Linked DNA regions of Homo sapiens. The protein of the gene in region 1 interacts with the protein of each later gene in a pairwise test. Each region holds a gene or a part of one and is shown in the gene's direction. Other genes may lie near its edges.

What was found. Proteins that work in one complex are often made in the same cells at the same time.
Region 2: the proteins of EML2 (region 1) and SPANXA2 interact in a two-hybrid assay, tested with the Homo sapiens proteins (one large-scale study listed by BioGRID).

Annotation. Positions count from the first base shown.
Region 1 is NC_000019.10:45,618,898-45,622,397, reverse strand, and holds part of EML2 (echinoderm microtubule-associated protein-like 2), read left to right. Parts: intron 1-760; coding exon 761-915; intron 916-1,065; coding exon 1,066-1,191; intron 1,192-3,206; coding exon 3,207-3,338; intron 3,339-3,500. UniProt on the Homo sapiens protein: Tubulin binding protein that inhibits microtubule nucleation and growth, resulting in shorter microtubules.
Region 2 is NC_000023.11:141,588,455-141,591,262, forward strand, and holds SPANXA2 (sperm protein associated with the nucleus on the X chromosome A), read left to right. Parts: upstream 1-1,253; 5' UTR 1,254-1,313; coding exon 1,314-1,385; intron 1,386-2,032; coding exon 2,033-2,254; 3' UTR 2,255-2,308; downstream 2,309-2,808.

The DNA of each region.
Region 1 (3,500 bases):
AGGGCAAATGAATGGATGAGAGGTGGGTTGATGGATGGATGGCAGGGTGGCTGACTGGATGGATCAGTAGAGAGATGGGTGGATGAATGGCTAGGGTGATGGATGGATAGATAGTCTGGTGGATGGATGGGTGATGAATGGATGAGTCGATAGTGTTCATCTAACAGACCAGTAGATAAGTGAGTGGATGGATGGATGGGTGGGTGTATGGGTCAAAGGGTAGATGGGTGGATGGGTAGATGTTAGTGCAGATGGTTTAATGAATAGATGATAAGGTATTGTATTTGAGTGGGTAGGTGGCAGGTGCTTGGGTGGTTGGGTGGGTGGAAGAGCAGATAGAAAGGTCGAAAGGTGGGGCCGGGCATGGTGGCTCATGCCTGTAATCCCAGCACTTAGGGAGGCCAAGGCGGGTGGATCACTTGAGGTCAGGAGTTCGAGACCAGCCTGGCCAACATGGTGAAACCCATCTCTACGAGAAACAAAAAATTCGCCAGGCATGGTGGTGGGCGCCTGTAATCCCAGCTACTTGGGAGGCTGAGGTAGGAGAGTCACTTGAACCCAAGAGGCAGAGGCTGAAGTGGGCCGAGATAGCACCAGTGCACTCCAGCCTGGGCAACAGAGAGACTCCGTCTCAAAAAAAAAAAAAAGGTGGAAAAGTGGGTGAGAATGGATGGACATAGGCTTGAGAGTTCAAGATGCTTTCAGGGGTCAGCATAGGGGTGGCTTCTCCCTGTTGACCCTGCCCCTGGCCACCCTGCAGGTGGGAACCGTATCACACAGGCGGTGCTGGGCGCCCACGACGGCGGCGTGTTTGGGCTCTGCGCCCTGCGGGACGGGACGCTGGTGTCTGGAGGGGGCCGTGATCGGCGGGTGGTCCTCTGGGGTTCTGACTACAGCAAGCTGCAGGAAGTGGAGGTGAGGAGGGGCAGTGGGCTCAGATGGGGGTAGAGAGGCCCCCCCCGATCTCACCAGGGCTCCCAACGCCAGACCCTCCTCCCCACAGTATGTCACCCCACACCCACCCGTGTGCATCCTACTCATCTTCCCTCTTATCTGTCCACCCAGGTCCCTGAGGACTTTGGCCCTGTGCGCACCGTGGCAGAGGGCCACGGAGACACACTGTACGTGGGGACCACCCGCAATTCCATCCTGCAGGGCTCCGTGCACACAGGCTTCTCACTGCTGGTCCAGGTGCGCCTCTCTCCTCTGCACCCCTCCCCTCTTCCCAGCTCTTTCCCTGGCCTTCCCTGCATCATCCACTCCCCCTCCCCACTCCCAGTTCTCCTCACCTCCCTGCTCTGTCCCTTCTCTGACCTGGCCCTGACCCAGGACCCCTTCCCAGGATCCAGCAACCAAGAGTTTAACTCCAAGCACAGCAGAGGGGCCCCAGGCCCCTGCTCCAACTGTGCTGCCTCCTGCCACTCTGATTGGGGGTGGCACCCTTCAGGTTGGTGAGTGTCCCTACAGGTTGTCCCACAGCTGCAGACACCCTGGCCACACACCTCTCAGACTCCAGCTCCACGGATTGGGGAAGGTCCTGCTGGAGTCTGCTTGCATTTCTTCTCGAAGCTCAAACGCCTGCTCCTCCCTTCCTGGCCTCCTCCCTCCCTTCCTTACCCCTGACCCAATTAAAGAACTCACCTACCGGGAAGCACTATATTTATACTTTTTTTTTTTTTTTTTCATTTTTGAGACAGAGTCTCGCTCTGTTGCCCAGGCTGCAGCGCAGTGGCTCAATCTCGGCTCATTGCAAACTCTGCCTCCCGCTTCAAGTGATTCTCCTGCCTCAGCCTCCCGAGTAGCTGGAATTATAGGCATGTACCACTACACCCAGCTAATTTTTGTATTTTTAGTAGAAATGGGTTTTCACCATTTTGGTCAGGCTGGTCTCAAACTCCTGACCTCAAGTGATCCACCCACCTCAGCCTCCCAAAATGCGGGGATTACAGGCATGAACCACTGCACCCAGCCCATACTATTATATTGGCTATTATAATTATTAATCATAATATTAATATTACTTTGGGAGGCCGAGGCAGGCAGATCACTTGACATCAGGAGTCAAGACCAGCCTGGGCAACATGGTGAAACACCATCTGTACTAAAAATACAAAACATTAGCTGGGCATGGTGGCGTGTGCCTGTAATCCCAGTTACTCAAAAGGCTGAGGCAGGAGAATTGCTTGAACCTGGGAGGCAGAGGTTGCAGTGAGCTGAGATCCTACCACTGCACTCCAGCCTGGATGACAGAGTGAGATTCCGTCTAAAAAAAAAATTTGTTATAAATATTAATAGTTAGACATTTCCATTTTGTGACCACATTCTCTGAATTATCCTCATGTTTAGCATTTTATTTATTTATTATATCACCCAGCCTGGAATGCAGTGATGCCATTTCAGCTCACTGCAACCTCCGTCTCCTGGGCTCAAGGGATCCTCCTGCCTCAGCCTCCCAAGTAGCTGGGGCTACAAGTGTGCACCACCACAACTGGCAAATTTTTGTATTTTTTGTAGAGATGGGGTTTTGCCATGTTGCCCAGGCTGGTCTCGGACTCCTGAGCTCAATCTTCCTGCCTCAGCCTCCCAAAGTGTCGGGATTACCGGCGTGAGCCACCGCACCTGGCCAGCATTTTCCATCCATGATTTGAGTGAGCACAGGAATGCTATGAGGCATACATACCAATTGGCCCCATTTTACAGGCGATCAAACTGAGGTCCCAAGGAGATGTCACCTGCCTAGATGACTGCGCTCGGTCAGTAATAGAAAGCCGAAGGTCAGAGCCATCAGGTTTAGTGCCCTCCATGAGGTCCCTCAGACTTCTGGGCTCTGTCTGGATGCAGGCAGACTCCAGAAGCGCCTTCCCAGATCCTTGGAGCTGGAGACCTGGGAGGTGTGTGGCCAGGGTGCAGCCTGTCTGACCCCTGAGATCAAGCTCTGAGCCACCATGCCCTCCTGCCTCCCATTGTGCAAAGAAGAAAGCAGAGGTCCCTGGAGAAGGGGCAGGATTTGCCTTGAGTCACACACCAGGGCATGGGTTCAGATGCCCAATTGAGGCCCCCTTCAGACATACTGGGAAAGGTCTTCCCTGGGTCCCGCTGGGGCAGGGTGAGTTGCTGGGGCTCATCTAGCATTTGTCTGGCATTAGTGTTGAGTGGGAAAAGGCCAGGGCTGCTGTCTCCATCCTGCTGTCCTCCCTTTCCACCAGGGCCATGTGGAAGAGCTGTGGGGCCTGGCCACACACCCCAGTCGGGCCCAGTTTGTGACCTGCGGGCAGGATAAGCTGGTGCATCTATGGAGCTCAGATTCCCACCAGCCCCTGTGGAGCAGGATCATCGAGGTAAGGGGCCCGGGGACTGGAAAAGCACCATTCTAACAGAACTACCTTTCCCCCTGTGTCAGGGCTCAGCACATTAGACTGAAACCAAACAAGGTCTTTTTTTTTTTTTCTTCGAGGTGGAGTCTCGCTCTGTCACCCAGGCTGGAGGGCAATGGCACGATC
Region 2 (2,808 bases), on another chromosome or scaffold:
CATTAATTTTTTGATATGAGTCCTCTGAAGTCCAAAAGAGACATATTGGTCTTATTTGGTATAAAAATCATACAAGAAGCATCGTCAAATATAAAATGCTGTTTGACTTTCTTTGGGCTGTATTTATAGAAATGTCATTGATATGTGCTCCAAAATTATGGGAAACTCTTATAATTCTGAAATAACTTCTGTATGTTATTAATTATAAACTTTATGTTAAATTGTTGTATGCTACAGAAGTAACCAAAATTTACTTGTCAATGGTGGTTTTAATAATGGCCGTCCTGGCTGGGTGTGGTGGCTCACGCCTGTAATCCCAGCACTTTGGAGGCCAAGGCGGGTGGATCACGAGGTCAGGAGTTCAAGACCAGCTTGGCCAAGATGGTGAGACCCCGTCTCTCCTAAAAATACAAAAATTAGCCGGGCGTGGTGGCACAGGCCTGTAATCCCAGCTACTCAGGAGGCTGAGCCAGAGAATCACTTAAACCCAGGAGGCAGAGGTTGCAGTGAGCTGAGATCATGCCATTGCACTCCAGCCTGGGCAACAAGAGTGAAACTCCATTTCAAAAAGAGAAAAAAATATACACCCCTGATTTGAAACAAGACTAGGATACACGGTAAAGAATGTTTATTCACTAAAGTTTTGACAGACTGAAGGCCATTATTTCAGATTGGAAATAGGAAACTTGAACTACACGGACACTGGGTAAAAGAACATGGGTTGAAATTTGCCTGGCAGTAGCCCAAAAGTAAATGGTCTTCGAGGTGCATGTGAAGGAACTGTAGGAGGGAAATGGGATAATTCACATCTCCGCCAATAAATAAATGTAGCCACACTAGCGTGGGGGATTTGAGGTGAGACATCGAAAATACTAAGTCATGGTGAGGGCTGGAAGACAAAAGAATGAATCACTTAATAGGAATGGCTGTGGGGAAGGGCTTGAAGGAATCATCCTCTGACTTCCATGTGAACCGTGAACATTAAACATGGAGAAATGAGGAGCGGCGGCAGATCGGTTTGGGATGCATCTTCAGGGGATGCTGAAACAACAGCAGCATTTGGTTTGCTCTACACCCCTGTCACCCCTCGCCCGCAAGCCCAGGGAGTGGTCAGCAGTGGGGCTTTGTGATGTGAAGCCACCCTAGGGCTGCCATTGGCTGGGACACTGCCTGTATGATCAAACAAAGCTCAAGGGTGTGGCTTTGCCTTGTCACCAGGAGGGTATACATAGGGAGGGCAAGAGCTCCGGGCCACTGAGAAGATTCAAAACCTACAAAAGCCTGCCACTGACATTGAAGAACCAATATATACAATGGACAAACAATCCAGTGCCGGCGGGGTGAAGAGGAGCGTCCCCTGTGATTCCAACGAGGCCAACGAGATGGTAAGACTGTTAGGTTCTGAAGTGAAGGCGAGGGTGAAAGAAAGACACACAGAGCGGGGGCGGCTCAAACAACAACACAGGAATATTGCAGACCATTGTGGAAGTGGGGGGCCCGCTTAATGCCAGAGCCCACCGCCGCTTACAGGCTGGGGTGCTTGTAGGTAGGGGTGGGAGGGGCCTGGGCAGTATGGCTTGCTGCCCGGCAGGATATTGATAAGATGTTCTTATGATCAGGTGGTTTGGCCCTTTTTCTGGTGGAATATCATTGTGGTGTTCCTTAGAACGCTGCCAAGCAAGATATGATAGGGATGTTTCTTCAGTTGGGCCTTTGTCCGCCTTGCGGACAGGTGGTTAGGCAGGATGTTTCTCACGGCCTGAACCCCCATGGGATGTTTCACTTTGACCAAGGTCTGCAAAATAGCAAAGAACTGACAAAATGGTGCAGTTTGGACTCACAGGTGACCCTACCCACGCTCCTCTTCTTCTTCCCCATAGATCCCTACTCTGTGCTTCAACCTTCTTCTTCTCTGGATCAAACCCCTTCCTCAACCCGCATTCCTTCTTCTCATGAAGTCCCCTTGCTATCCAGTCTCTATCCTGTTCACCCAAAATAATGTCCTCCTGGCCTCTCCCTGCTTTCTTAACAGATGCCGGAGACCCCAACTGGGGACTCAGACCCGCAACCTGCTCCTAAAAAAATGAAAACATCTGAGTCCTCGACCATACTAGTGGTTCGCTACAGGAGGAACTTTAAAAGAACATCTCCAGAGGAACTGCTGAATGACCACGCCCGAGAGAACAGAATCAACCCCCTCCAAATGGAGGAGGAGGAATTCATGGAAATAATGGTTGAAATACCTGCAAAGTAGCAAGAAGCTACATCTCTCAACCTTGGGCAATGAAAATAAAGTTTGAGAAGCTGATGGCTGTGTATATCTCTGCCTGTTTTCTGATGGTGGCGGGGGAAGGGAAGGGAAGGGAAGAGGTAGGCATTTGAGAAGGGAGGGATATGAGGTCCTGTAGGGTTGGTGGACAGACCCACAGGTTGACAGTAAGCCAGACATTGTAAATAAGGCCTGGGGGAGGACTGATTCCTAAAGAAAATTTTCTTCTTAAAATTTTATCTCACAGGAAGTGGAGATGTGTATATGTTCACGCAACTGTACCCGGCAGCACATAGTTCTGCTGAATGGACATATCAAAGGTATTCCCATCCCCTTTCCATTTGATATTTTCCTAGGCTAGAAATAGATGCTTTATAAAGAGCAAATGTTCTGTAAAACACAAAGCACAATACAAAAGAAGATAGTAGATGTAGGAGTAAGTAAACGGCAGGAAAGCATTGCTTGTGATGAAATGATTGAAAAGCCAATTCTAAAACAAAATGTTCAATGCATCTTAAATATTTGTTAGTGTTTTAATG